Linked DNA regions of Homo sapiens: regions 2 and 3 are each linked to region 1. Evidence: fine-mapped expression QTL. A gene starts in region 1. Each other region holds a variant in brackets. All regions are shown on one strand. Distances are between the middles of the regions.

What was found. PIP is the estimated chance that this variant, and not a neighbour inherited with it, causes the effect.
Region 2: its variant is the best candidate, but not a certain one, in a credible set for the expression of PCDH1 in whole blood (INTERVAL, PIP 0.81).
Region 3: its variant is the best candidate, but not a certain one, in a credible set for the expression of PCDH1 in whole blood (TOPMed, PIP 0.76).

Annotation. Positions count from the first base shown.
Region 1 is chr5:141,874,133-141,884,413 of GRCh38, reverse strand. It overlaps PCDH1 (protocadherin 1), which reads left to right and starts at 6,004. Exons shown (of 5, transcript NM_032420.5): 1 at 6,004-6,191. The coding sequence starts at 6,152. RefSeq lists enhancers at 1,094-1,976, 6,006-6,755, 7,022-7,706.
Region 2 is chr5:141,940,922-141,951,202 of GRCh38, reverse strand. It overlaps PCDH12 (protocadherin 12), which reads left to right. Exons shown (of 4, transcript NM_016580.4): 3 at 1,620-1,771; 4 at 5,398-7,622. The coding sequence ends at 5,822. DELE1 (DAP3 binding cell death enhancer 1) reads right to left here. Exons shown (of 12, transcript NM_014773.5): 12 at 9,156-10,281. It also overlaps a transcript of RNF14 not described here. Among named protein-coding and RNA genes, the nearest start is that of PCDH12, 12 kb to the left of the region's middle. The variant A/G (reference allele first, on the strand shown) is at 5,519.
Region 3 is chr5:141,851,445-141,861,725 of GRCh38, reverse strand. It overlaps PCDH1 (protocadherin 1), which reads left to right. Exons shown (of 5, transcript NM_032420.5): 4 at 4,255-4,474; 5 at 7,290-8,636. The coding sequence ends at 7,684. Among named protein-coding and RNA genes, the nearest start is that of PCDH1, 22 kb to the left of the region's middle. The variant CTTG/G (reference allele first, on the strand shown) is at 4,139.

The DNA of each region.
Region 1 (10,281 bases):
CGGGAGGCTAAGGCAGGAGAATCACTTGAACCCGGGAGGCAGAGGTTGCAGTGAGCTGAGATGGCGCCACTGCACTCCAATCTGGGCGACAGAGTGAGGCTCGGTCTCAAAAAAAACAAAAAAAAACAAAAACAAAAAAATTCCCCTTTGAGTAAAGGGTAGGTCTATACCCCTCTCGTTTACCACCCCATACACATAAAAGTTTGGCAAGGACCACAAAAGACATGGTACCAAACCTAGCCTATTAGTGAGGAGAGTACTAGGAGTGGAGGAATGGGGGCAGGCTCCCGGGCTGAGGAAGGACCATATTAAAGCCTCATCTTCAACAACACAAAGAAAAACAATTTGAAACTTAATCATCTCCCAGAATTATGATCCCTTCCCGCAGCGGGGAGCACATTAGCAGAGCTGAGAAATGATAATTCAGCAGCCCCCAACCCAGCAGGGAAGGAAAGAGAGGAGGAGGGAGGAGAGCCGGAGGAAAACAGAAACAGAGGCACAGAGAAAGATGGGGAACGCGGGGAGAGGCAAGGCCTGACCTCTCATGGCTCTTCTTCCTGCCCAAGTCTGAGACAGGGTTCCAGGAAAGTGGGCTGGTGGCACTTGGCCCTTCAATTGTGCCCAGATAGGGCAGGGGTCAAGGTGCTCCCTAGGTCAGTTCTCAGCACCGATGGATCCCCACGTTCGGAGCTGCATCCAAGCTCATCCGGGCCAGGCGTGGTTTAGTGGTCTTAGCCTGGTTGGGGGAAAGCTCCCGAGCCACCAGAGCTGGCTCTGAGCACCCGCTTGTCCGATGGCACCTAGGCGAATCAGCGGTCCGTCAGGACCCGAGGCGCTGGACAGCTCCCGGTCCCAGAAATGGTTCTCCGGAGTCCAGCAGTGAGGTGGGGTGAGGCTGCCCCCGCGCCGCGGCAGACCCCACCCTCCGGAGAAGCGCGAAGGTTGCTGGGAGCTCCTGGGGAAAGGGCTCGGGGTCGTGAAAGGGTCCCGATGGAGATCTGGTGGGGACCTTGAGACTGGAGCCCCGGGGGCAACTTCTCCAGACGCATTCCTTCCTTCTGAGTCCAGACCCCTTCACTCCCCACACCACCCCCCGCTGGGGACAATGGCGCCTTCAGCCCCCAGAGATGAATGGGGCCTTTGAGAGCCGCATGCCACGGGGTCAGCGGCGGCCACCGGGTCCCCGGGGGCTGCCCAGCCTCCAGATCAAGGAGACTCTGGTCAGGGAGAGTGGGGAGCTCTTCGGGGAAGAAAGGAATTCCATGGTCCCTTTCTTAGAGACTAGTGGGCCCCGGAGAAGAGATTCATCTGGATCAGGCAGTTCCTGGTAAAGAAGGATTTTAAGGGGGTGGGGAGGGAGGAACCCCCACTACCTGTGGCAGGGAAGGGGAGATTCTGTGCCCCTTCCTCAGGAGGCAGCAAAGCCAGCTACCAAGCTTTTGCTACCTCTTCCCCCCACTCCACGCTCCATCCCGCCTGGTTCCCCAAATCGGGGTCCCACCCTCAGTTTGCATGGGGCAGCTCCCCGTTTCTCTCGGTCCTTTCATCGGGGGCTGTCCCTAAGGCTTGGTCCCTCCTTCCTGCTCCTGTCTCCCCTCCGATTCTTGCACTGCACAGCCTACCCAGTTTCTATGGAAACAGGCTGGGAAGGCACTGCCAGGAGGCCAAGGCCACTACAGCTCTTGGGGGGAGGGGAAGATAGAAATGGAAAGAGAGACGCAGGAGGCGAGTTCTGGCCATTCCCGGAAGCGGGTGGAGATCTGTTGGGAGTGAGCCTTCACTGCCAGAGGGGTGGGGCAGAAGGAGAGGTGTGATTAAGTGATGTGACTGAGACAGAGTTGAGGGGCTCCTCCTCATTCCCCCAATTCCCAGTGCTCCAGACATCTAGACAAGCCTCCTCAGAGGGGAAAGTGGTGGATGAAGAAGGAAAAGAGACAGGTAGTACCAAGAGCTCTGCCCATTTCTAACTTATGTGAGGCTCTATCCTTTTACCCCTCCTGGGGACATGCCCACTTGAGAGGAGGTCTCCAGGGAACTAGAAGGCTCCCAAGAAGTGGGAGGGAAAATTGGAGTGCGGTGTGAGTGGTCAGGGATGTTCAGGAATCTCCCCTAGGAAGGTGAGCTAGAGGTGGGCAGAGGCCTCGGAATGTCAGCTACTTTTATGGTACCCCTCTCTGGCACCTCCACTGAGGAGTTGGTAGGGGGCTGGAGACTGTCAGCTTCCTCCCCTCTGTTCATCCCATCAGAACGTTGGGCTATGAGAAAACAAAAGTGGCCTAGTGGGGGTTGGGTGCACAGAAAGGGAGATAAGCCTAAGGCAAGAAGGGCCAGAAGAGGGGTGGGTGAATGAGTGAGTGCGGATGCTTGTGGCTAGGGCAGGGAGGGAGCTTCTTAGAAGCTTCATCTGCCAGCTCCTGGGAAGTGATCCCCAGCCCTCACCCTCTCCCGATGCTCCCACCTCAGGCAAAGCTGCCCCTTGGACAGGAACTATTGGAAATCTCAGAGTCCTGGGAGATTGTGCTGTGGGGGATTCCTTGGAAAGGGGCCTTCTAGGTTATCAGAACGTTCAGCAAAGCTTCCCTGGGGGAGAGGGGTAGTGAAACAGGTACCCTGGAGCCTAGGGTTTCCTGGATCTGAGCCATCGGCTCTCCCTGACCATAGTCCCCAGAACAGTCGTCTTGGTGTTTGCTTATTTTGGTTATTTTTTGATCAGATATTTTGGCACTGAGCACACTGCCTCCTGTTGCCATGGCAGCCGTGACAGGGGCTGAGGCACCGTGAGAAAAATACCAAAATTAATGAGTGAGCGAAAGTGCAGCCGAGAGAAAAACAAGGTTAAAAAAAGAGTTAAAACAGTAATGAAAACAGGCTTTCCAGCTCCACAGCAGAGCAGCTGCTGAGGCCTCCCCAGAGCAGCAGCCCCCACCCAGCCTAGAGCTCCTGGCATCTCCCAGACCTCAAGGCAGGACTCACTTGGCTTCCCCCACCCAGCTCGTCACTGACCCAGCAACAGCCACTTGGGGACCACCCTATGCACAACAGTAGATCAGCTCCAACAGTACATCAGCTTCCATCTCAGGTAGTATCCTGCCTCCCAGAACAGCTTGTCATCTCCTAAACAATAGAGTCTCAGCCACAGCCCCCACACAACAATGGTCCAGCAAAATTACCAGGAAATGGCCTCCTAGCTACACCCAAGCTTTAAAGTTATAGCTGCAGGCATCCCAGCTAGAGTCCAGCACACAGTAACAGCCCAACCACAATTCTGAGCAACAGCATCTTAGCTATAGCCAATCCCCAGTATGCTGTCATCACAGCTACAGCTCCAGGACCAATAGCAGCTCAGCTACAGTCCTATACACAACAGTAGCTCTGCTCCTATCCCAGGTAACAGCCTGTCTCCCAGGTACAGGCTCCTCGCAACAGCCTCTCATCTCCTAGGACCTAGGCAATGGATCCAGTTACAGTCCCATCTACATCATATTAACAGGGAACAGCTTCTCAGCTACAGCCAGTCTCAGGTGTGCCAGCCTCATATCTATAGCTTCAGGCCCAACAGCTTATCAGTTACAGTTCTCCCTCAACATGCACACACACACCCATATACACACAGCTTGGCGATAGTTTCTCAGGTAATCTTATTGGCTATAGCCTAGGCACACCAGCATCAGAGCACTGCAACAGTGTCCTAAGTACAATCAGAGGCAGCAGCCTTGGTGTTACAGTTCCAGGCCCTACAGCATCCTAGTTCACTTAGCCACAGCCCATCCCAGGTACACGGATATCACAGCAAGCACCCCAACCATTCCCATACCCAGCATCACCCTGGTTCCAATCCCTGGCCACAGTCTCAGCTGGAACTCAGGCACCATCAGTTTCAGGAGCCTCCCCCAGTGCTTCACTTGCCAAGCAGGTCCTCCTCCCACTTTGGTACAGGGCCAGAAGTCTGACTTCTCTCCTCTTCAAATGCCACCTCCCTTGCTCCCCAACCATCCTCCCAGTCCCTGCTTGCTCACCTGCCCTCTTTCCTGGGGAAAAAAGGCCCCAATTCTCATATCTACATTGTCCCTGACTCAGGGGCACAGAGCCCAGCCTGGCAGCTGGGGTAGGAGGGGCTGGGGAGCAGGGAGAAGAGTAGGCACACCCTGGTGCTGCTGCTGTGGCCCAGTTCTGCTCCTACCACTTGGTGCAGAATTTGAGTTTGATGGTGGTGGAGCAGGGAGGATGGAGGCGAACATCTGGGAGATTAGCATTTCCTGCCCAGCTCTGCGGCTGCTGATCCTGCTCAGCCCTGAGCAAGGGAGGAGAACAGAGGAGCCTTTGAATGGCTCCCAGCAAGCAGACTGGGGAGGGTTTGCTGCATTGGGCAGCGGGCACACGCTGGGGGCAGGGAGACCGGGGCAGCTCTTCTGTGGAAGATTTCTTCTCTCTGGGCCACTGATTCCCTCCTCGGAGCTGTGCTCAATGATGTGGAGAGTATGAGCTTTCTAGAGACAGAAAGAAGCTACTTACAGAACAGACCCACCCCCCTCTTTCACCAGATTACCCCATCTCCCATCTAGAGCCCTGCCCCTGGGCTCCTGGGGCTGAGGGATAGAGCAGAGCCCAGGTCAGAAAAGGAGTCCAGTTAAGCAGGGCTGCTCTGGGAGAGATCTTGGACAGACTTTGCTTGCCCTCTTAGCTAACCAGAGATTCCACTTTTACCCTGAAGAGCATCCCACCGAGAGAGGCCAGAGCTGAGAAGAGAAGGAAGTAGAAGAAAGAGGAAAGGCACAGAAGAGTGGTAGGAACAGGAAAATGGGGAAGGACAGAGATGGGGAGTCAGAGGCTATGGCAAAAAGAGGCCCAACAACTGGTCATCCCATAACAAGAGCCTTTCCTCACCCAGCACTAGGCCTGGCTAGGGATAACCTTCCTCATTCTTTTGACCTAGAACACTCTGCCTGGGCCTGCAGGCGAAGAAGGCAGGAGGTCCTGTTGAACTGGGACACTTGGTAGCCTGGGTTACCAAACCGCAAGCGCAGGAGAGGGAGTTCCCAAGCTACTCAGAGACCTCTAGATGGCGCCAGAGAGCCAGAGCTGAATGGGAGAAACCGAGTATTGGAGTGTGTGAGACACTGCGTGTGACACCGTGTGTGATTTGGTGTGAGTGTGATAGGGAGCGTGTGGCACTGCGAGGGCGTGTGACACAGGCCGTGACACTGCGCGGCCTCGCGGGGCAGGGACCCGGTGACTGTATAATGTAAGTCACTGGCAAATACGTGTGGCCGCAGCACTACGCCGTGCAGAGGGCAGGTGATCAGGGGACCCTCGAATAGCCTAAGCTCAGGAGCAGCACTTCGTCTTCACGCTTGTGTATCTTCCCCATCCTCACTCTAGAGCCCCCGGGTCCCATTAGCCTCCTCCTCCCACGGTCCCCTCCATAGCCCCACCCCCACGGCTTGCTGCGGCCACCGAGGCTGACCGCTCTGCGGCTTCGGCCGGAGGGGGAGGGGTGGACTTTCCCCGAGCGCAGCGGGAAGGGAGGGCCACACAGGGCGATCGGGGATCTGGGCGGGAAGAGGGTGGATATGGAGGAGCAGGTGCCCAGGGAAGAAGGCGCTGTGGGAGACACTTCCCTTGCCTCGACTTCCCAGGGGGCAGACAGAGCTGGGGACAGGTGTTTGAGTAGGGTAAGGAGGGGAATCCAGGAGCGGTCCTAGATGGAGGCTTGGGTGGGATAAGTGTAAGGTGAAGCTCAGAGGAGGGCACGGCCTGTGTACTGGGCCTCGGGCAGTGAAGAGATGGCAGAGGGAGGGGTCCAGGCTTTGGGGAGCGGTGCTCGGGGTCCCCTCCCAGCCGGACCGGAGCGGTCCCGAGCTCCACCTCCCGGCCGGAGGGGGGGCGGGGAGGCGGGCGGGCCGGGAGGGAGGGGGGAGGGAGGGGGCGGGCCGGGCTGTGCGCTCCGCTCTCTGCTGGCTCCGCCGCCGCCGCCGCCGCCGCCGCCGCCGCCGCCGCCGCCTCACACACTCGGGGAGCGGGAGCGCGGCGCGGACGCAAAGCCGCCGGGCTGCTGCGCCCAGAGCCAGCCGGAGCCGGAGCCGGAGCCCGAACTGCAGCTCCAGCCCCAGCCGTGCGGAGCCGCAGCCCAGGCCGGGGCCGGCGGCGGCTCATGGACAGCGGGGCGGGCGGCCGGCGCTGCCCGGAGGCGGGTAAGGATCCGGCGGCGGTGGAGGCAGCAGCGGCTTGGGGCCCGAAGCGGTCATGGCCGGCGGGAGCTGAGGGAGGGGCGCTCGGCGGAGCGAGGCCGCGGGGGCCCAACACGAGCTCGGCGCGAGGGGGCTGAGGTGGGGGCTGCTGGGAGCCCATAGCAGGGGATGCGGCTGAGGGATTCCGTCCTCCCAGGTCCGCGGCGAGAAGCCGAGGGAGGGGAGGGGGTGCTGAGCAGAACCCTAGTCCCCGCGTCCCAAACCTGGGCGCGCTCGGAGAGACGGGGATAAGGAGACTCCAGGAGCGCGCGGCGTGGAGGATGGGTTTGGGGAAGCGCGCGGCCCCCAGTTTGGTGGGGGTCTCCCGGAGGACGGAGCAAGCAAGGACCGTTGTCCACAACACATACATACACACTTGTTGGGCAACTACCTCGGCTCACTCAGCCGCTTCCAGCTTCTCGCGGGCACCCAGAGGGCCAGACCGTGGACATATATACACACATACATACATCCCTGCATATGTGCACACAGACATACCTCCCGCACACCAGCGCCCACTGGGGCACCGTCGCCAGCTCAGAATCCGCTTCAGTGTCTGCACGATCAGCAGCACCGACACACAACCCGTGGCTTTACAGAGCAATAACACAACCGGGTGTGACACCCCGCGACGTGGACACACAAACACAATCTCGTGCCCTCATGTACGAGTGTCACAGCCACAGTTCACTAGATGAACCCTCAAAACCTAGCCACCCCCCACATTCCTTTAAGGAACACACCCTAGCATATATCATCTTACCCACTTCTTGGCCAGAACATAGGTACACAGCACAGGTCTCCTTGCACCCCTCTACTGCACCCACACAAACACACAACCCAGTATCTCAGCACACGCTTGATGGCACACACTCTAACACAGGAATTGGCACCTACAGCAGCGCCTCACGGTCACAAACACAGAATCCACTGCTTCACCCATCTTAACACTGGGTGTCACACACACCTTAAACCAACAGTGTCACATTACATTACACCCTGCAGCGCATACACACAAACACACACACTCCGTTCCTCTCTCTCGGAGTCCAGATTCAGGCAGGAGAAGCCGCCGGGGTCGTTCGGCGAGCCCCAAGCGCCCCGCCACGTTAATCGCGACATTATTATTGTAAATATCGGCACAGCGGGAAGGCTGGGCCGGCCTGCCGGCTTCCCAGTCGGCGCCTCCCCAACCCCCACTCCCGGGCCGAACCGGCTGGTGTTCCGGGAACAAGCTGGACCTGGCTGGCCAAGCCATCCCGCCTCCCCGGAGCTCTGGGGCCCCAGGTTCCTTTGTAGAGGGTGCTAGCCTGGGACGGTGATTGCGACCCTCTTCCAGCCATTTAGCTGAGTTTTCTGAGCCACCTGGGTCTCCAGCACACCTGGGTCCCACACACCTTGGTGGGTCCCGCACACCTGGGTTCGTCTCACACCTGAGCGCCCCCTCCGCCTGGTCCCCGCTGTAGGCCAGTGTGTGCGCGGGCAGGCCCTGGAGCCAGAACGGAGATCGCGGCAGGCATAGGAGCAGAATTTGTAGGCGAGGTGGTCTCGCACCCCTTCCCCCCAGCTACCCTCTGTAAGTCAGAATTCTGGCCTCAGTTTCCCCAACAGTGGTCGGCTACTATTTCTTCTGCCAGGAAAGACTGGGGGCGGCACTGAGGCCTTGGAGGATTGAGCGTAGGGCAAAAAACCCCCTCTGCTCGCCACGAGAGGGTCGGTTTTATGAGAATGTCCCCGCCTAGCCGGGTTCGCGGCTTTGTGATTCCGGCGCCGGCTCCCTCCCCGCCCCCTCCTGGCGCCCGCTGCGCCGCTCGCGCCGGCTCCGGCTTGCGGGGGACCCTAGGCCGAGGCCGGAGATGCCGGGGAGGAGGGATTCCCCGCGGTGGCCTGGGTGCGGGGGGCGCAAGGGCTCCCCCCACTAGCCGAAGCGCGTTCTCACCACGCCGCGCCCTAGCCTTGCCTTGGGTTCCTGGAGGCTGGGCGCTGCCGGGGTGGGGGTGGGGCCGCCAGAGCCCAAGAAACTGCCGCCGTCCCCCCCGCCACCCCCTAATCTCCGCAACACACACACACACTCGGCGTCCTCTGGGAGGAGTCGCTCCGCGCGCTGGGTGTGTGCTGGGAGCGCCCGCTGACCAAGGCGGTGCGGACTGGGGCTGCTTGGGTCGCTTCGTGCAGGAAGACGCCGCGAGGCTTCTAGCACCTGCTCTGGGTCAACCCTCGGGAGCTGCCAGGGAAGGGGCCGCCCAGAAAGTTTTTATGACAAGCCGGAGGTCTAGCTGTGTTTGTAGGGGGTGGGGGGCGCGGGAGTAGGTGGGTGTTACTTTATTGACGTTAAGGTCTGGGGGAATTGGAACCTGTAATTACAACTAGACTAGGGCATGGGGTGGAATCGAGGGGAGAGGCAGACTGGCCCCCAGAGGTAGCCAGAGGCAGTGTGATAGGGAGGCAAGTCTGGATTCAGTTCTGGCCGCATTTAGTTTTTACCCCTTCTCCTACCCACCTCCAATTCCCAATTCCAAAAGGGACTTCAGCTGGAAGTGGGTGTCTTGCTGGTCTGCCATCTTCTTAGCAGAGGGGCTGCTGCTGTGGCTACTTCTGCAGGGGAGCTGGGCAAGCGATAGTAAGCTAATTGCTGAGAAGGGGGTTGAAGGGCCAGGAGGGGGCCGCGAGGGTGGGGGAGGAGCTAAGTGGGAATCAGGGTTCGGGGAGGGGTGTAGGGAAAGAAGAAGGTGAGGGCTGCCCCTGCCGTGAGCAAGGATAGTTGGTGCAGAGATTCTGTTCAACAATGTATTGAGCACCTTTTATCTGCCAGGGTCCATGGTGGGTGGTGAGGATGCAGTAGTAAGAGACATACCATCATTGCCTTCATAGGACTTACCAACCAGCGAGGGGATTGGCTTGTTTATTCATCGAACCAAGGAGCACCCACTGTGTGCCCGATGCTGGAAATAAAATGGTCTATTCAGCAATTAGAAGACTTAGAAAAAAAAATGATTTGTCCTTTACATGTAATGTAAATAGACCTTAATGTAATAGACCTTATAGGCATGAGATCTCATTTAATTCTCCCAAATAATTTCAAGAGGCAGGTTTCATTATTTCCATTTCACAGTATGGAAACAGGTTCAGAAAAGTAAATTCACTTGGTTAATGTCACACAGCTAGGAAGTGGTGGAGCGAGGGTTCTAACCCCAACGATCTGACATGCAGGTGCCCAGAAGCCCTGCAGAGGCTAATAGAGGGTTGTGGGAGAGAGGGGAGAGGAGCTGAGGTCTGCACACTTGCTCTCTGTGGGAGGCTTCTGTTCAGCTCCACCCCACGCAACCCCATTTTCTTCCCCTCTCCCCGCGACAGTCCGTTTGTCCCTTGGTGTTTTGTGCCCGCGGCAGTGACCGTTGTGTAACAGTGCTGGGGTGAGGGTGGGGAGTCAGAGCTGACCTGGCTACTGGGACAGTGGTGGCTGCCTCTGTGTGTTTTTTCTCTGGCCACAGCACTCAGCAAAATGGACCTTGGTCCCCGGGGTGGGCTGGAAGTGAAGTTTCCGGGTGAACTCTCACCTCTGTTCTCATCCCTTCCCAGATGTTGACACAGACAGTATTTCCTTCAGCTTTTCTGGGACTCCGTCCCCTCCTTATCCCTTACTCCTACACCCCTGACGGCACTTCTGCTCCTCTATCTGAGGGACATGGGTCCCTGCGCCTGTTCCCCCTCAGGCTCTGGCTTCTCAGGGTCCTGGGTGCCCATGTCACTGGGGGGAGGTAGGGCACCGTTGCCCAGGAAGGCAGCCAGGGCCCGGGGAAGGGCAGATAAGGCGCTGCATGTATCAAAGGCTGCTGTGTGGGATTAATGACTCCCAGTGCCCAACTGCTGGGGACAAAGTTCAGAGATGGTGGGAACACGGGTGAGGGAAGGCCTCCTTATTGCTGCTCCTGCCCTTCCAGGCCACCCTGGCTCTCTTCCTGCATTTCTACGGGCCCCTGGGTGAACAGCAGCAGCCTAGGAAGCCTGGGCTGGTTCATTCCTTGACCCTTAGGCCCACTGTTTCTTATTCCCT
Region 2 (10,281 bases), 67 kb before region 1:
CAATTACAGAGGTGCTGTAAATTGCCTTTATATCTGTAACTGTCACCTCTCTTTCTCTTGACCCATAAACATAATATGAAGGCTCCCCACTAAAGACATGGCTGTGTGGGCGTGTCCCTTTGGGCAATCCTAGAATTGAAGACACCTTAAGAGAACATCAAATCCAACTTCTTGTTACGGATGGAGAAACTGAGGCTCTGAGTAGCTTGATTCAAACCAGCTATGTAAACTTGAGCAAGTGAGATAATCTCTCAGGACCTTGGTTTCCCCATCTGTAAAACAGAACCCATCCCATTTCCCTTGTGGTAATGGGGTGAGGATTTCATAATCAATTGTATTCTAAGCCCATAGCCCAGCAACTGACACATAGTAGGTGCACACACAATGCTAACTCCTTTCCCCTTGAAGCAATTTTGCTAAAGGTCATGTAACAAGTGAGTGGCAAAGCTGGGACCAGCTCTCAGAGTTCCTGACTCCTGCATCAGTGCTCTTGCCCTGACAACTTACAGCTTCTTTTTACAAGGATGGTGAGAGGTAGTGTACTGCAGGGGTGAGTCCACACACTCCAGGGTCACACTGGCCTGGATTTGAAGTCTTGCTTTATCTCTTAATCTATGGGGACCTTGGGCAACCTGCAAAATCTTCACAAGTCTTGGTTTTCTCATTTGTACAATGGGTTGATTAAAGAGAACCCCTTACAGGTGTGGAAGGTTTGAATAAGACGGTGCATGGACCTTGCATCGCATAAGGCCTGACTCAGACTCACTGCTCAAAAACATTAGTTGTCATTATCACCCACACACTTGCCACCTCCCTGCTCATTTCTTCACAGCAGCAGAAATGGCTACAGGGGAACAAAACCAAACAAACAGAAGGACTCCTACGCCTTAAAACCCCTCAGGTAGCCTTCCCACCTGCTGGGATGAGGGTCCAGGCCTGTCCCCAAGTGTCTATGGGAGAGAGGGACCAGGATGGAGACAGCAGGAGACTGGGGTGCAGGTAGCAGATTCTGAGCAGCTTTAGGCTGCCTCACTCCGGCTGCACCCTCCATAGGTCTGCTCTTCTGGCCTAGGATTTGGCCTAAAGTAGGGAGGAAGGAATGTTCAGTCACTCATTCAGCACCCACTGTGTGCCACGCCCTGTTCTGAGCATCAGTAAGGGAGCAGGCAATGAGACAGGCAAAAATCCCAGCCTTCTCCTACGGACGGATGGACGGCTGCACTGGCTCCACTGAGGTTTACTAAACTCCTCCTGTGTGCCAGGCAATACCTAGACATGGGAGGGGCAACGAGAATGATATCAATGAACTCATCTTCACTTCTGTCTGCTGAGTGCTTACAATGTGCCAGGCTCTGTGGTAGGCCCCTCTACCTACAACGTCTCATTTTACCCTCACAACACCCTGTGAGGTGGGTGTTATTTATTACTCTCATTTTACAAATGAGGAAACAGAGTAAGAGGAGGGCGGGAATCACATGATCCAGGTTGGTCTGACTCTAGAGGCCAGGCTGTGTATCCAGTTCCCTATATGGGTAAATGAATGCAAACATGAATGGGCATGAATGAATGAATCTATATGGGAATGTCCCTACCCATGGACTGGTTGGTTTCTTTTGCAGGAGTGCAATCCCAGACACAGATGGCCCAAGTGCAAGGGCTGGAGGCCAGACAGACCCAGAACAGGAGGAAGGGCCTTTGGATCCTGAAGAGGACCTCTCTGTGAAGCAACTGCTAGAAGAAGAGCTGTCAAGTCTGCTGGACCCCAGCACAGGTAGGGACCCCCTGGAGTTACCTTGACCCTGCTTCTGCCCCATGGTGTCCAAGCTTCAGAGTTCTGCTCCAATCCACTGCAGGGAAAAGCCATTCTGTTTCTGTGGAGGAACATCAGCAACATTTAACTTCCCTTGCACCCTTGCAGCCTCAGAAAGTATTTTAAAGACCAGGTTCTACTTTGATTTTTTTTTTTTTTAGACAGGGTCTTGCTCTGTCACCCAGGCTGGAGTACAGTGGCATGATCACAGCATGATCACAGCTCACTGCAGCATTGACCTCCTGGGCTCAGGTGATCCTCCCACCTTAGCCTCCCAAGTAGCTGGGACTACAGGTGAGCACCACCACCACATCCCGCTAATTTTTGATTTTTTTTTTTTTTTGTAGGGACAGGGATTCACCTGTTGCCCAGGCTGGTCTCCAACTCCTGGGCTCAAGCAATCCACCCACCTCAGCCTCCCAAAGTGCTGGCATTAGAGGCATGAGCCACCTGTAATCAAAGCCAAAGTAGGCACCTGGCCTACGTTGATTATTCATTTTAAAAATCATTGTAAAAATAGTGAACATGCCAGGCACTGGGGAAGCATCTTATGTACATGATCTCATTTAAGCCTCCAACCAATCCCCTCAAGTAGATAATTATTACCTCGAATTTACAGATGAGCAAACCGAGGCTCAAAAAAATCAAGTAGCCTTCCCAGAGTCACCCAGCTCACCAGTGATTGAAGGGGAGCCAAACCCTGAGCCAGCCTGTCCTCTATGGACTTCTTACCACTCATTGGCGTTTGGTGTGTTTCAATACCCTTTCACCCTGGGAACCAGGTCAACTCTTTAATATGCTAACAATTGCAATGAAAACAAAAAGATTTTTTTGCAGAGAAATAATTAGCTTTGACAATAAATACATAATGTGAACTTGAATTCAAGAATCTGCTAGCGCCCCCCGCCCCTGCTGTGGACATTGGTCAGCCTCCTTTGGTAACACACCCCACGGCAGACCATCCCTGTGCTGTGGTTTTCTATCTATGTAGTTAACACTGTTTCTCATGTGCTCCATCTGGCTGCAGACACACTGAAGGTATGGCAGGGACTTCTCTTTCCTTGGTTAAAAAATATTGCTAATGTTTATTGGGCACTTTCTATGTGCTAGGCCCTGTTCTAAGTACCTCATGAGAAAATCTTATGAGATAGGGGCTATTCATTATCCCCATTTCATAAAGGAAAAATGTGAGGGTCAGGGGTGTTTCATAATTTGCCCAAGGTTGTGCAGCTCGTGGATGGTTATTAACACAGGCAGTGTGGCTGTAAATTTTAGAGCTGTGTTGTTCAATGAGGTAGTCACTAGCGACAAGTGGCTATTTAAATTTAAGTGAATTAAAATTAAATAAAATAAAATATTCAGTTCTGCCATACCAGCCACATTTCAAGTGCTCACTGGCTATGTATGGCTGGGGGATATAGCTTTGGATTCTATCTCTATTGGTCAGCTCTGGCTGGAACCTGTGGGGTCAGTTCCCACACGGTCCTGCTTGCCCACAGCACAAAGGGTACTGAACACAGGGGCACTGTAAGGAGTTGGGGGTAAGGAAAGAGGAGGGGCAGAAAAGCCTTTGCTGCTCACAGGCTGGACTGCCATGGGGAGACTGGGATCTTGCTGCTTCAGATCTGCTTCAGATTGCTTCAGATTTGCTGCTTCGGATTCAGATTGCCCCACTTGAGAATGCGACCATGATAATGTTTTCCTGGTTGCATGAACTCACTGAACCTCACAACAACTCCACAAGATACGTACTACTGTCTCACCACTTCCTAAGAGGAAACGGGAGCTTAGAGAGGTTAAGCCATTTTCCCAAGGTCACACACACTGCCCCTAAGCTGCAAAGCTGGGAAATCAAACCCAGGTTGGCCCAGTGCCCACCTGCAGCTAGAACTGGTGGGTGATGCTGGGTGAATTCAGCATCACTTTTCAGCTGTTCTCATACGCCCCAGTGATTTTCTCATTCCAAGCTTCACTCCTTCTGAAGCTCTCTGACCCATGTAAAAGGAAAGGCCTGATTCTATAACACCAAGAGTTCCATCCAACCTTATAGCCTCAGAGTCTCAAGGAACTAAGGTTTGCATTTCCCAAATGTTGAAGGTTAATATTTATGTTCATTCAATCATTCAACAAACATTCACTAAGTCCCAGGCATGGGGCTAAACCCAAGGATCCAGTAGGGCAGGAGCCCAACAGTGTCTCACAAGCTGCACAGTCCAGAATGCAGGGCAGAGATTCATTTATCAGTACAATAAATGACTACACATACTTCGGAATAACTTGTTCAAATTACATAAGTAATATTTGGTTAATATAGAAAAACATAGATAAACAAAAAGAGAATGGATTGCTTCTGCCCAGAGGTAATTTCAGTTAACATTTTGACATATCTCCTTCCAGTCTTTCATTCTGTGCGCAGATTTTAAAGTAACTCACCTTAGGCAAACATTAGATAAATGTTAAGTAGATGTTGTGCTTTTTTTTTTTTTTTTAATTTTTTTAAGACACTGTTTCTTAACTCCAAGACTTATAATTTCTTTCCTCTGGCTTGGTCTCTACCATCAGGCCTGGGACTGGTTTCTTGAAACAGGATTTTCTGTTAAAGGGATGGGAAAAGAAGGGTGACTGTGGCATTGCAAATGTAGGGGCCAGTTTTTTGAATTCCCAGCCACCAGGCTGACTTGCCACCGCCACTACCCCAGTCCCTCTCCTGGGACAGCCCTTGGACAGGCAGCCCCTCCCCAGCCTGACTCTAGGCCAGGGTTCCAGCAGCTTGAGAGATGATGTTGAGGAGGATTTGAGGATCTGGGGCCAGGTGGTAACAGTGCAGACCTTAGGTAGCCTGGGAATTCCAGAGGCCCCAGCTGGGCACCTGGAGTATCCAGGGGGAGGAAGGGCCAGCTCTTCAGAGAGAGGGTAGGGTGGTGCCATCATAGGCTTCAAAGTCATCAGACCTGGCATCAAATTGAGGTTTGGTTGCCTAGCAGATGTGTGACTTAACTTCTTTCAGCTTCAGTTTCCTCATCCATCAAATGGGAATAATACTCTTGACCTCAAAGGTTTGTGAAGTTAAATGAAATAATTATGTAAATTGCTCATCACGTAAGTACCTAATATGTGGTCCCTATTATTATGGATGGGAACCAAAAAAGGCAGCGCTAAGTCAGGAACTCCAGCCTTGGCAAAGAAAAGGGATTTTCCCTCCATCCTCAGCTAGTGGAGCCCTGAGGGGAGAAGGCGCCCTGAGGGGTAAAAATCCTGGATGAAATATAGAAGACACTGAGACTGGAAACACACGCCCAGATTGGGAAATTCTTCAGAAATCGGCAAATTTCTACTTCTAGGCCTTCTCCTCCTCCTGCTGCTTCCCCACTTGGTTCGCCCGGGTGTGTCAGTCGACTGCTTTCCTACCCAGGGAGCTTCCCTGTCAGGGCCTCTTCCTTCCTGTCCCCGTCTGGCCACTCTGTCTGTCCCCTGCCATTTCCCTTCCCTCCTTTGTCCACTGCCCTTGCCCTGCTCATTGCCCCACCCTCACCCGCCTGGCCCTTCCCGGAGCCTGGCCCTCACTGTGTCCCCTCCTTCCCCCACAGGTCTGGCCCTGGACCGGCTGAGCGCCCCTGACCCGGCCTGGATGGCGAGACTCTCTTTGCCCCTCACCACCAACTACCGTGACAATGTGATCTCCCCGGATGCTGCAGCCACGGAGGAGCC[A/G]AGGACCTTCCAGACGTTCGGCAAGGCAGAGGCACCAGAGCTGAGCCCAACAGGCACGAGGCTGGCCAGCACCTTTGTCTCGGAGATGAGCTCACTGCTGGAGATGCTGCTGGAACAGCGCTCCAGCATGCCCGTGGAGGCCGCCTCCGAGGCGCTGCGGCGGCTCTCGGTCTGCGGGAGGACCCTCAGTTTAGACTTGGCCACCAGTGCAGCCTCAGGCATGAAAGTGCAAGGGGACCCAGGTGGAAAGACGGGGACTGAGGGCAAGAGCAGAGGCAGCAGCAGCAGCAGCAGGTGCCTGTGAACATACCTCAGACGCCTCTGGATCCAAGAACCAGGGGCCTGAGGATCTGTGGACAAGAGCTGGTTTCTAAAATCTTGTAACTCACTAGCTAGCGGCGGCCTGAGAACTTTAGGGTGACTGATGCTACCCCCACAGAGGAGGCAAGAGCCCCAGGACTAACAGCTGACTGACCAAAGCAGCCCCTTGTAAGCAGCTCTGAGTCTTTTGGAGGACAGGGACGGTTTGTGGCTGAGATAAGTGTTTCCTGGCAAAACATATGTGGAGCACAAAGGGTCAGTCCTCTGGCAGAACAGATGCCACGGAGTATCACAGGCAGGAAAGGGTGGCCTTCTTGGGTAGCAGGAGTCAGGGGGCTGTACCCTGGGGGTGCCAGGAAATGCTCTCTGACCTATCAATAAAGGAAAAGCAGTGATTCATTCTCCTGTTTGCACCTGTCAAGAGGGAGAAGGGAAGAGTAATAGAGTGGGGTTTATTTGTCATCCAATCCCTGGCAAGACCGTCACACTGGGCCTGGACAGGAGTGGGGCACCTTGGTACACAGTAACAGGTACACAAATAGCAGACATGTGTGCTCTTACCCCTGTTCCCCTATCACTATGTTACCAACTAATCTGCTTCTCAGCTGCAAAATTAGAGCTAAGAAAGCACAACTATTTATAAAGCATTTACATGAGCCAGGCACCAGGCTTTACAATAGGATTTAATTTGATTTTCCAACAATCCTGGGAGGGAGGTATTATTAACCCCATTTCACAGACACGGATATGGGGCTTGGAGAGGTCAAGTGGCTTTCCCAAGATCAAGCAGGGAGTAGAGCCAGAGCCAGGATTTGGACCCAGGCTGGGCCAACACCAAAACCCATGCCTTCAACCTTGACACCAGCCTGCCAACCAAAGACAGGAGAAGGGAAGGCCCTGGAGGTGAGCTGTTGGCAGCAGTGAACTTGCTCGAGCTCCCTCGGGAAACACTGTTGAAAGGAACATTTCCAAAGCCATCCAGGCCCGCACCTCTCTACATTCCCAAGCACAAGGCAAAAGGAACTTGGATCTGAACTGATGCAGACCCGTTCTTTCCCAACAAGTAGCTCTTCAAGTGCGGATGTCATCTTTCCCAACCCCATTTGCGGGTAAACCTTCCTCTGTCATTGCAGGTTCAGGCTTGTGAATCCCAGAGGACGCTGTGTGAACTGGGTCTATGAAATCGGCACTGACAGCAGCCAGCCTTCCAGGGGATGGGGGAGGGAAGAAACAGCAGATATTTTCCCAAGGTTCAGCTTTATAATTTTCTTGGAAATTTCCGAGCAGCCAATCAGCTAGCTTCTAAATAGTGTGGGTCTCTCCTGGACACTGCAGGCAAAAGTTCCTCTATCTGCTCCTCTTTTTGTCCTTTCTTGGAGCTCAGTGCTCATGTTCACTGTTCAAGAAATGGGCCAATCATACTCCCAACTAGGGATAATGTGCATCATACATACTTGGAATACAGTGTGGTATCATTATTCCATTTTACAGATGAAGAAAATGAGGCTCCCCAAAGTTATGAGTTTCAGGGGCAGAGTTTCTCCTCACCTCACTCTAGGCCAGAGTGATCTCCTTACAGAATCTGTGATTTTCAGGCTGGATCACAGAACTGTTGGGTTCTGTGGGCCAGTGAGAGAAACTGGGGGATATCAAGCAGGCAGGCAGGGTCTCCAGCCTGACCAGCCAGGTGCCTGCTACAAAGCAACACTTGATGAATAGCTGTTGAATGGATGTATGAATGAATAAATGTGTCAATAAATGCTTCAGAGGCCCCTTTTATCCATATTGGAGCTCCAGGTAGGACTTCATTAGAAAAAAAGACTCTGTGATGTAAAAGCAAAGTCTGAGAACCACAGTACTGGAGTAGACCATGGTGACCTCCCAGTTACCAGCAGATTTTCAGTGCAGAGCAGATGTTGGGAGGGTGGAGAGAAGAGAGTGGGCAGGGGGAGATGACCTGAGGAAGCTGGAGCTATAGCTGGCAACTGGATCACTAGACACATGGGACCATTGCATCATTCTAGTTCAAAAGCCCTAAATCTGTACTCCTTGGGCACCCTGAATACTAGGTAAAACTTTGTGTCTAGACACTTTTTTAGGCAGAAGATACAAAATTCTCATCAGATTCTCAAAGGAAACCTTGACCTTTAAAAGGTTACACAGCATTGCTTTAAGATACTATCTAAACATCCACAGACATGGGCAGTTGTCATAAAGAGTCTGAACTTTATCTATTTCAACTCTTCATTTTATAGCCAAGAATATAGAAAGAAACGGCAGATGACTTGCCCAAGGCCACCTGGCAGGTTTGTGGGGGAGAGCTTTCCAAATTAAGACATTTAACTGAGTGCTTGCTCAAATCAGGATTTGGATCTGGGATTTAGTATGGTGGTCTTTTTAATACATCAAGGATTCTTAATCTGACGTCTTTGGTTAGACTTCAGGATCTATGAACCTACTGAACTACATGCAAAATTGGGAGGATATGCATTTTTTCTATGGAAAGAAGTAGGTGCTTAGATCAGATTCTCAAAGAGATTTCGGGCCCAATTAAGATTAGAAAGCACTACAATCCTCTAGGTCAGCCCTCAGCCCTGCCTTCCCTGCAGAACCTGGAGAACTCCTGCGTAGAGCTGCTCCTGTTCTGAACTTTGATCAGAATGGGGGTGTATGTACGTGAGGGACAGTGTTCTCTCCTGCACCATGTGTCCCCTCCTGATGAGCTGATACCAGCACCTTTCCCAATAACAGCTCAGAGTGAGACCGTGTCTATGGTAACAGAACTGGGTGTGTTGAACAGGAAGGTTACAGAAATTTCTTGACATCAGCCAAGATGTCAAAGCTGAGACTTTGGACACGCTCAAAACAGTTTCCACCAAGATGGGCTCTGTCCCCTGGGAGACTGAGGGAGCAGGCGAGCCAGCAAGCACTGTTACATGTCGTCCTAATTTGGAAAGCATAGAGGGACATTTTTTAAATCAATAGTCAGCCGTTCTCCAGCACCAGGAGTGCAATGCAGTGCTCACTCAGAGCCTGGAGGCAGCTCAGAGATTGACAGGCAGCTGCCTTGTCTGTCACCCAACTTCAGTTTGGCAGCTCACTGACGCTGCCTCTTCTCTGGCTGAAATAAGAGTGATGTGGCAACCACTACCTTTGAAACTCTGGAGAGAACCAAATCCCAAAAAAGAGAGGACAGGAGGAAGGAGAGGCTTGGCCTGGCACATAGTGTGTACCTAGAAAATAGATAAGCATTTTCTAGCTCCTACTAAATTTTGGGTACAACGTGGGAGGAGTAGGACATGATCAGAAACACTCATGCAACAAACATTTTGTGTTTATTGAATAATTACTAAGTGCCAGAAGTAGCACAGGAAACCGTGTGTGTGTGTGTGCGTGTGTGCGTGTGTATAGGCGGCGAGTGGGGGGCAATACAGAATTATTCATTCAAGTTATTTAAAATTATTCATTCAAATTACTTAAAGTACCTACTATGTGCTGGGTAGGCTTGGTGCTGGGCATTGGGTGGGGGGAGTTGAGTATAATCACTCACTTATTTGTTGAATGTATATTTACTGAACATCTGAGTGCCCCACACTATATTAGCACTAATGATATAGTAAACCAAATAGCCTTGTTCCCATCATAGTGTCAGGACTCCCTGAAAACAGCATCTCCGGATAGGGAAACTGAGGCAGTAGAGCTTCCCACAAAGGTCTCATTGGTGAGGGCGCCGGGCTTTAACCCAGCATCCTGACCCAGGCTGGCCCTGCTGATGGGAGCCACCTCCCTCTCGTCCTCTCACACTTCCTCTGGGGCACTGATGATGAGTCATTAATAACAGAATTTTAATGGCAAAAGCACAGCAGTACCCAGCTCTGCCAGTGAAGCCCATCCCCCTGGGGCTGGATCAAGACCGCAGTGACTGAACAGCCAAGGATTTTTGGTCCCTTGACAACACCTTTCTCACGACTCTGCCATCCTTCCCTTTCCACAGGAGAGGCCCTTCCTTTTTAAATTGGAGAGCTTAAAAATATCCTACCCCCAACCTTTGGCACCCCAAATTGAATCAGTACTTAGCTCAGTAGTGACTGAGTGGGAGGGAGAGCCACTCAGGGAGGGCTGCATCTGGCCTTCACCACAGGACGCCCAGTGGCCAGACTGTGAACCAGCCCTCGGCCCCAGCTATGGCTAGAAGGAAGTAGTCAGAAAATCCAAAATGACCACAGAGGGGAGGAGGCTGGGGAGTGGGGCTCCACAGGGAGGGCACACGGTGACATTTCACGCAGAGGGTGCCCCAGGAAGGCTCAAAAGCAATCTGTAGGGAAACGGGCTCTGGGCTCAATTCAGTGAGAGAAAACATTGGGTTAACCAAGTTCTTTACTGGAGGACTTCTTGGAACCTCAAATATGCTGATGTGTATTGTGAATCTATAAAAAGGGGAC
Region 3 (10,281 bases), 23 kb after region 1:
GACTAAAGAGGCTTGAGACACTCCCAAGAGGACCAAGGCTCCAGCTCTCTCCTCTGATTCCATCCACAAATTCCCCCAATGCCCTGGGGGGCCCCCAAAGTAAAAACTCCTTGGGTCCTTGGAGGAGTGGGGCCTGGGGAAGTGAGATCTAACCATATCGTGATCTCCAGCAACTCCTGACCTCCCATTCTTTCTCTTCCTTTTCTGTCCTTTCTGGCATTCCTTCCGTCTTTCTCCTATTCCTTTAGCGTCTTCATCTCTTTTTCTTTCCCATGATCTGAGGGATTGTCTCTTACTCAGCTCTAATCCAACCTAACCCATCCATGGAGCCACACTGAATGTCTTCTCCCAACATTCAGATACAACCAAACCACACCACCTGTTGTCATCATCAACACACACAGGCCAAGTTTCCACTGAGTACTCAGCATGGTACTAGACCCTGATGAAAAAATGGCCATACTTGTACAAGACAGACAAGTGAACGATGAGGCAATTGAGTGTCTTGAGTCGAATGAGAAGTGCCCTACTAAAGCTTTTCCCAACTTATTCCATGAAACTACTTCTACTGCTACTGCTCACTTCCTTTTTTTTTTTTTTTTTTTTTTTTGAGATGGAGTTTTGCTCTTGTTGCCCAGGCTGGAGTGCAATGGCACGATCTCAGCTCACTGCAACCTCTGCCTCCCAGGTTCAAGCAATTCTCCTGCCTCAGCCTCCTGAGTAGCTGGGATTACAGGCATGTGCCACCACACCCAGCTAATTTTGTATTTTTAGTAGAGACAGGGTTTCTCCATGTTGGTCAGGCTGGTCTTGAGCTCCTGACCTCAGGCGATCTGCCCGCCGTGGCCTCCCAAAGTGCTGGGATTACAGGCATGAGCCACCATGCCCGGCACTCACTTCCATTTTTTGAGTCCTTACTAGGTGTGAGGTACCATGCTAAGCACTTTGTGTGAATTAGTTCAATCAGTGCTCATAACTCTTTATGATATGGGTCATTTTAATATTAATTTTGCAGAAGTGAAAACTAAATAGTGATGCAGCCAAATTCAAACACAAAGCAGGCGGGTCTCCTATTACCTATTATGCTATAAAAAAGGCGTTCTGTGGTGAAGTTAGTTTTGGTAGTAAGAAATTCATGATCACATTAGCCTATTAAAGGCTCTGCAGAGTCCTCCAAAAAAGGGGGAACCTGTTAGACTTCGTTTAACCTTTTTTTTTTTTTTTTTTGAGACAGGGTCTTGCTCTGTCACCCAGGCTGGAGTGCAGGGGCGCAATCTTGGCTCATTGCAACCTCTGCCACCTGGGCTCAAGCGATCCTCCTGTGTAGCTGGGACTACAGTCGTGCACCACCACACCTGGCTAATTTTTGTAATTTCTGTAGAGACAGGGTTTTGCCATGTTGCCCAGGCTGGTCTCAACTCCTGGGCTCAAGCGATCTGCCCACCTCAGCCTCCCAAAGTGCTTGGATGACAGGTGTGAGCTGCCGTGCCTGGCCCCAATTTTGTTTACCTCTTGAGTTTTCTGAATTTATTTCACCATATTGCCCCTCCCTTCCTTTGACGAGCACAGTATGGGAAAACTTGTACAAGACATGGAAATGGGCTTCTGGAAGGAGAAAGTCAGCTTGTCAATGATGAGCAGGATTAGGGCAGGAGGGTCCCCTGCCTCCTCACAGGGTCACCGTGTAAGCAAACTCCTGCGGCAGAAGTGAACCAAGTTGGAGGCAGGGAAAGGGCAGAAAAAGGAATATTCTGGCAAGAAGAGGGGCATAAGAGAAAGCTGAAAGATGAGACTGGAAGAACTGTAGGTTGTAGAGGACATAGGTGCCTTACCAAAAGTTCTTCAGAAGGAACTAGTCCCTGAAAGCTCATGAGTGTTTTAGATGAACTGAGTTTTAGAAAGAGCACTGGAATATATGGTGGGCTTAAAAGGGCATAGAGATGAAGGTACAGGACTGAACCTCTAAGAGTTGGACTATGATGGTGGCAATGGGGGTGATGGATGGATGGATTTGGCAAAGGTTAGGGAGAAAGGACCCACAGGATTCAAGGGATAATTGGATATGAGGTAGGGATAGGGAATGAGGGGAGAGCTACCAGGATTCTCAGGTAGACATCAGCCTTCTGAGTCTGGGTGATAGGATAGTGATGAGATCATTGCCCATACAGAAGCTAATTGAAGAAGCATTTGGTTTCAGACATGTTGAATCTTAAGGGCCAGTAGGCAGAGCCAACTGGAAATAATCAGCAAGTGTCTAGAGCTTCAGGACTCAAAGAGTTTGAGAGAGATTTTTTGATCTGGGCTTTTATAATTTGATAGTCATAAAATTAGAGGGAACATTAAGTGTTGGGTATAACCCAACCCTCCATTTTATGGAAAAGAATCATGGGAAAAGAGACCAAGCGACTTGCTTAGTAGGCAGGACCAAAGCCTTCAATTACCAGATATGGGTTCTGCAGGGAGGTGGGACTGCTGGCCAGTATCTTGAAAGAAAACTGGAAAGAGAAGCACCAACAACCATGTTGCCCTGTGCCTCCCAGACCCCTCCTGGACCCTAATCACCCCTACACCAGGTGGACTACACTCCTTTATAGCCTCCCGGCCCCAAACATCCATGTTAGTTTTGGGGACCTTATCAGTCATCACCCAGACCCTTCAGTGTTTTAGATCAATACAAGGATTCCAAGAACGGTCGCTTATTCCTGAAGATGAGGTGGGAGCCATCTTCAGGAATGGGGATAGTGGGGAGGCAGTTCTGGGCTACCTTCACAGCAGCTCCAAAACTCCTGTCCTGACAGCCTCTTCCACCCTAGCTGCCTTGAATGGGGCTATTAGGAGGGTAAGTCTACAAAGCCAGGGCCACCTCCCCTGGCCATCTTCATAACCTCCTATCCAGAGTTATAGAGTAAGACAAAGCACTGCCAAAGTCTTGGAGGATGGGAAGGAGCTTAGAGACTCATCAGCAGGGCCCTGGGCTTAGCTGTTTTCACCCCTGGCCTCCAGGGACCCTGAGTCTGCACCCTCCACAACTCCTAATTTCTGGTTGGCAGGAAAATCTGTGGCAGTCCCAAGTGGGTATTTGGGTGGCTGGCTGGTTGTGCCAAGTGCCAAGTTGAGATTGCCAGGTTCCAGGGCTGATCGTTAACCTGTGGCAGGCATACAGGGCTGCTGGCTGGGAGCAGCCTGTCACGGTTCCACTCCCCCGACCCCCAGTCCCCAGTCCAAGCCTCCAAGTCTGGCTCCTCATGCCAGCAGCCCTCCCAGAAGCTCCTTCCTATTTCCTGGAAGGAGTCTCCCTTTGAGACCAGCTTTCCTAATCCCTAATGGGTGCCATGCCCTCTCCCCATGTCCAGGCTCCTGGCAGAGCCCTACCCTCTCCAGTGAATATTCTATTTCCTGATCGGGAGGACTGGGGAGTTTCCATTGTTCTGCTTTGTCCCCTTCCCCCAGGTGCCCTGGTTTGTTATCAGGCTCCTCCCTTTTTTTCCACTCCCAGGCCTCTCTGGAGGGGAGTGAAGTGGGGATGGGGGGCTGAGTGGGAGGGGCGACAGCAGGGAGTCTTCAGACTGCTGCAACATCACAAACCAGGGATGAGGAACACAGGATAAGAAAAGAAAGGTTGTTCCCTCATTTGGAAGGAGGCAGTGGCAAGAGCAGTGAGACAGGTGAGGAGCTGGAGTTTGGAGGGTGCTGTTTGGAAATGAGGGAACTAACTGTTGTGGTATTGGTGAGCTGTTTGGGAGTTAGGAGTCTGCTTCTTTTAGGAAGCTGTTCTAGAAACTGCAGGCTATGCTGGTGTTTAGAGGCTGAGCTGGAATTAGGGGAGTCGGGTGGTATTATGTTACTCTGGTATTGGGCTCTACACCGTATTACAGGTCATTCTGGGATTAAAGGGAGGCTGTGCCAATATTGGGAAGCTGGGTTAGAACTAGAAGGGTTGTGCTATAACAAGCGGTTGCACTGGATGAGGGTTATTGGGGTAGCATAGGGGCTATAATAACACTGGGGCCTGCGCTGTATTGGGACTTCCAGTATGTGGACTTGGCTGTACTAGGAGCGGTCCTAGAACTCAGGAGCTGTCTTTCACTGGGGCCTGTGCTTTCGGGAGGAATGTGCTGTGCTGGGGCCTGGGTCTCTT[CTTG/G]GTTGCTGTTGAAGCCTGAGTAGGATGGTGCTTGGCTTGTACTAGGGCCTGGTATGGTGGTGGGCCCTGTGGGCAAGCTGGCTGGTCAGTAGTGACAATCTGTCTCCCTGCAGTTACCTCACCGCCGCGTCACCTTCTCGGCCACCAGCCAGGCCCAGGAGCTGCAGGACCCATCCCAGCACAGTTACTATGACAGTGGCCTGGAGGAGTCTGAGACGCCGTCCAGCAAGTCATCCTCAGGGCCTCGACTCGGTCCCCTGGCCCTGCCTGAGGATCACTATGAGCGCACCACCCCTGATGGCAGCATAGGAGAGATGGAGCACCCCGAGAATGGTGAGGCGCAGCACCATGGTCAGGGCACCCCAGGAATGAGTGGAAGCCTGGGAATGGTGACAAGGCCTTAAACAAATCATCTATGTATTGAGTTATTATGTGCTCAGTCATCATCACCGTGCTGAGGGCTTTCAGGTATACACGCATTTAATCCCCAGAACCACTCTGTGATTTGAGAACTTTATGGCACCCACTTTACAGTGGAGGAAACTGAGGCTTAGAGAGGTTAAGTCACTTGCCCAAAGTCATACATCTAGAACGTGACAGACCTGGGAGGGATTCAAACCCAGGTTTCTCTGACTCCAAAGCTGTTGCATTCGGCACCATGTTTACACGGCCACCTGGGAACAGGGACCCTGAGTGTGGTGGCCAGAAAGCTCACGTAATGGTGAGGAAACCTTGAGAAGGTGGGTGGTGGTCCTCTAAGGTTGGGAAGGCCTTGAGAATAGAGATTGGGCCCTGGATGCTACAGGGGGCTCAGAGAATGGAGTGACGATATGCTGGGGTGAGGAGTGGGAGAAGGTTTGGCACCTCTTTGAGGAAGAGCGCGGTAGGAGGTCTGGTGAAGAGAAAGGCCTGTCTGGGAGGGATTTGGAGGGTGATGGCAAAAAGGAGGTGTGAGCCAGCGCAGAGGTCGGCATGGGAATGGATGGTGAGGTGTGCCGTCAGTGTGTGTGCAGTGCGTGTGCATGTGTGAAGTCGTCCATGGCAGCCTGTGGAGGGGGAGAGTGAACGAGCTAACCCCTGAGATGGAAAGACTCTCTAAGTTGGAGTTGTCCTCGGGTCCCACCCACTCCCTCAACTCAAAGCCTCCTCGCTCCACAAAAGATGGGAGGTTTCACTCCCCTGCCTCAGGCACAGGGCCCTTGTCTAACCTCCCGGGCCCTTGTCTAACCTCCCAGGCCCTAGGTCTCAGAGTGCCCTCCACCCCCACCCCGCCCCTCCATGCGCGATCTCATGCCCGTCTCATCCTTTTTGTGCCCGCGCAGAGCCGGCTGGCCGGAGCAGGCCCTGAGGCAGAGTGCCAGGTATGTGGGAACTGCTCTGGGGTCTGGGGTCTGTGGGACTCTGCCCAGCACCCAGCCTCACCCACCCAGTGCCCATGCTCTGCTCTGAGCCATGTTGCGTCCCCCAACTCTGCTCTGAGCTGTAGAGCCTTGGCACTTTGAGGGTTAACAACAGAGCTGTCCCCTCCTCACCTGGCACTGGCAGGAGGCCAAGCCATAGTGGGTGGTGCCAGGGGAGCCCCTGTCCCAGGCAGTGTTGCTTAGCCATGTCCCTTGGGGGTGGGGGGGGGTCACTGCCTGGTGCTGTCCCTGAGCAAGGGCAGGACAGGGACAGCTGTGACAGGAAGTACTCATGGCCCAGCCGTTCCCATGGAGACCCCCGCTGCCCAGCAACTACACCGGCTACTGCTGATGTCAGGCAGCCAACTCCTGTTCCCGTGGGTGTTCTGGGCAGGGAGCTGGGGCAAGGCCAGGGGTGGTGGCTGGTTTAGGGGCCAGAGTGAGGTGGGGAGGGGCTGCATGAGCGTGCTTGTGGATGTGAGTGTGTGCCTCTATGTGAATACCCCACACAGAAGCTCGTCCCTTCCCCCTGGCTTTAAAGCAAGGTCTTGCAGGAGGAGGGTGGGTTCAGGACCACCGGGAGCATGTGAAGCTTGAGGGGGTTCTGAAGGAAGCAATGTACCCAATTTCATCTGAGGATAGAGGTGCCCACTGTAGTAGATTTGTGTATCCATGCCTATCTGTGTGTGTGAGAGGGAGAGAGAGAGAGAGTTGATTGTGTCAATCAATTCAATGAGGATGGAGGTTTCCTCAACCCCACCTGAGGATAGATTTGCACATTTAAGTCTGTCTGGAGATAGATGAGGCAGTGTGTAGATGAGTGTGTGTTTGTGCACCTGTCTGAGGGCAGATTTGGTGGGTGTGTAAGAAGAGCACTGGGGGGTAGGTGACGCTGGAAGGAATGTGTCTATTTAGGGCTTGGTGGCTCATGCCTGTAATTCCAACACTCTGGGAGGCTGAGGCAGGCGGATTGCTTGAACTCAGGAGTTCAAGACCAGCCTGGGCAACATGGCTTAAACCCCATCTCTACAAAAAAATATAAAAAATTAGCCAGGCATGGTAGTGCATGCCTATAGTCACAGATATTTGGGAGTCTGAGGTGGGAGGATTGCCTGAGCCTGGGAAATTGAGGCTGCAGTGAGCCAAGATCACACCACTGCACTCCAGCCTGGGTGACAGGAGTGAGACCCTGTCTTGAAAAAAAAAAGGATAAGGCTGGGTGCGGTGGCTCATGCTTGTAATCCCAACACTTTGGGAGGTCAAGGTGGGTGGATCACCTGAGGTCAGGAGTTCAAGACCAGCCTGGTCAACCTGGTGAAACCCCATCTCTACTAAAAATCCAAAAATTAACCAGATATGGTGGTGGGCGCCTGTAATCCCAGCTACTCGGGAGGCTGAGGCAAAAGAATTGCTTGAACCCGGGAGGTGGAGGTTGCAGTAAGCCGAGATTGCGCCATTGCACTCCAGCCTGGGTGACAAGAGCAAGACTCCATCTCAAAACAAAGAAAAAGAAAAAGAAAAAAGATAGATTATGTGTGTGTGCGTGTGCGTGTGTACAGTAGGCCAGTAGGTCGATGGTGGGAGGGCATGTGTCTCTTTGAGGGTGTGTGTGCCTGTGAGTTCAGCGGTCAGGAAGGGGCGCATACTCCTGTCCTGAGGTGGGGTGTAGATGCCAGTGGGAGGCCATGAAGCAGAGCTTTGCAGAGGCTGTATGTCTGACAATTGTCCTTCCCCGCTCCCTCCTACAGACCTTCGCCCTTTGCCTGATGTCGCCATGACAGGCACATGTACCCGGGAGTGCAGTGAGTTTGGCCACTCTGACACATGCTGGATGCCTGGCCAGTCATCTCCCAGCCGCCGGACCAAGAGCAGCGCCCTCAAACTCTCCACCTTCGTGCCTTACCAGGACCGAGGAGGGCAGGAGCCTGCGGGCGCCGGCAGCCCCAGCCCCCCGGAAGACCGGAACACCAAAACGGCCCCCGTGCGCCTCCTGCCCTCCTACAGTGCCTTCTCCCACAGTAGCCATGATTCCTGCAAGGACTCGGCCACCTTGGAGGAAATCCCCCTGACCCAGACCTCGGACTTCCCACCCGCAGCCACACCGGCATCTGCCCAGACGGCCAAGCGCGAGATCTACCTGTGAGCCCCCTACTGGCCGGCCGGCCCCCCTCCCCCAGCCGCCGGCCAGCTCCCAAATGGCCCATTCCAGGGCCTCACTCTCCACCCCTTCAGCGTGGACTTCCTGGCCAGGGCCCCAAGTGGGGGTATCACTGACCTCATGACCACGCTGGCCCTTCTCCCATGCAGGGTCCAGGTCCTCTCCCCTCATTTCCATCTCCCAGCCCCCAGGGGCCCCTTCCCCTTTATGGGGCTTCCCCCATCTGATGCCCAAGAGGGCTCCTCTGCAATGACTGGGCTCCTTCCCTTGACTTCCAGGGAGCACCCCCTCGATTTGGGCAGATGGTGGAGTCAAGGGTGGGCAGCGTACTTCTAACTCATTGTTTCCCTCATGGCCGACCAGGGCGGGGATAGCATGCCCAATTTTAGCCCTGAAGCAGGGCTGAACTGGGGAGCCCCTTTCCCTGGGAGCTCCCAGAGGAAACTCTTGACCACCAGTGGCTCCCTGAAGGGCTTTTGTTACCAAAGGTGGGGTAGGGACGGGGGTGGGAGTGGAGCGGAGGCCTTGTTTTCCCGTGCTGCTCCTGGACTGGCCCACCTGCCTGCCACATGCCCACGCCTAGTCCCATCTGGGCCCCCATTCCCTGCTGGTCATGCAGTGTCTGTATATAAGGACCTTGGAATGACGTCCCCATTTCTGCCTGATTTGCAACTTTTCTTGTTGATGTCGTGTTGTCTTGGGGGACCCCTCTGGGGGGGGACCTGCCCTGTGCCCCCTCCTCCCTGCCGCAGTGCCCCCCAACCCAGGCCTCTATTGTTCCATGTTGTAAATACCCCTGGGGCCATGGTGGGATGGGGGTGCAGGCCAGGGAAACAACGGGTGGGTGGGGGTGGGGACGGGGGTAACATTTGCCTATCAGCAGAGCTGGGCTTTTATTTAATTTTTCTTAAAAATACAAATCTCTATTTTTTTGGAACTGTTGCGCTGTGCCCTGGGGGGATCCCCGCTCAGGCTGGCCTCCCACATCCAGATGAGCATCACAGAGGGGCCCTGAGGCTGTGGGGGGCAGCTGGACAGGGGTGGGATGACTGTGCCTCTGGCCTGGTTGGGTGAGTTGGGAGCAGGAAGGTTTGCTCAGGGGGTGGCTGGGTGCTGCTCCCGATATAGGGGGCCTGCATCCTGCCCCCTCCCTGCCCTCTCAACCCCCAGCCCCTGCCATGACTGACCCGTCAGCCTGTAAAACCACCATTGCCTTGATCTCAGGGGGTGGGAGGGCTGCCTCAGGGCACCCTGGGCTCCAGGCCCCCTTCTTCCAGTTGGGCTTCCCTTTGTCAGGGTCAGGGGTCCCATGGGGGAGGGGGTAGGGAGGTTGGGGGGCAGAGAAGCCCAGTCAGCCATGATGAGGTGAAGTTCTCTTCTTCACCTCAGGGGGCCAGGGTGTAAGGGGCGTCCTGCAGAGCCCCCGTCTCCCACTGTGGCCATCTCAAAGCCTCAGCCCCTCTTCCTTCCAGAAACCCCCACTGCCTTGGCCCATACCTCTCCAGCTCCCTAGGGGCCCAGGCTGGGAGGCTGGAGACTCAGGGTATGGCCCTTGCTTGACTTAGTCTAAGCTTGGGGAGGTGGTCCAAGATTGCGAGCGGTGGGTACAGGCTGCGGGGTCGTCTGGTGCCTTTGGGAGCTGTGCTGCTGGGGTCTTGACTCTTGTACCCCAGAGACCCCACCCCCACCCCGGAAAAGCCAGGGGCCTGAAGAATCACCCTATTTATCTGCCCCTTACCCCCAACTTGGCTTGGGGTGACAGTGCTAGGAAGGAGAGCATTGTTAGGCTGGTAGCCCTGGCATACGAAGCCCTTCTACAGAGGGGAAGGGGTAGAATGGGATGGGGTGGCAGCAGCCAGGTCTAGGGGTTGGCCAAAGGCTCCTTTCCCTTGGGGAGGCCCAGGAGATGGGCTTGGGGCTTGTTAAAGAGACAGCCCCTTTCCCCTGCACAAATGGGGCAGGTGCAATAGTCTTGGAGTTGGTAGTATTGGGTGCCCAGCTGGTGGAACAGTGGCCTCAAGGATTGTCCTGGGTCCTGGAGGTCAGGATTCGGGCAAGAAGATTGTATGAGGCCCATTTGCTTGGTGGAGAAGGTGGTCCAGACAGGCGGCATTCCTGGGGTCAGTGGACTCCCACTGGAAGCCCCTAGTGGCCTGGGTACCTTGCCCTGGTCTTAGAGACCCCTGAGCACTGAGCAGAAGAGCAGAGGAGCATTTTGCACAATGGAGAAGCCAGAAGAAAGAGGGTGGCCCAGATGGCTGGGAGAGCTGAGAAGCCCTTCCCACAGGCAAAGACAGAGCCCCCAGCCCCCTGGTTGGGGCCAGGGCACTGAGTCTGTCACCAACTGGGCACTGGAGAGATGAAACCAAAGGTGGGCAGGGGTTGGCGACAGCACTGGGGACTATCCCTGTGGGTCCTAGGTCTGTGAAGCCCCTCCCCAATGCCTGTGTCGCGTACAGTTTTATGTACCAATAGGCGACATTTGGCCAGAGGAGAGCCCCCCTCAAACCCAGCCTGACCCAGTCTGTGTCTTCCCAGAGGGGACCTAGTCGGTCCCCATCCCCCTACTTCAGGGCATGTCT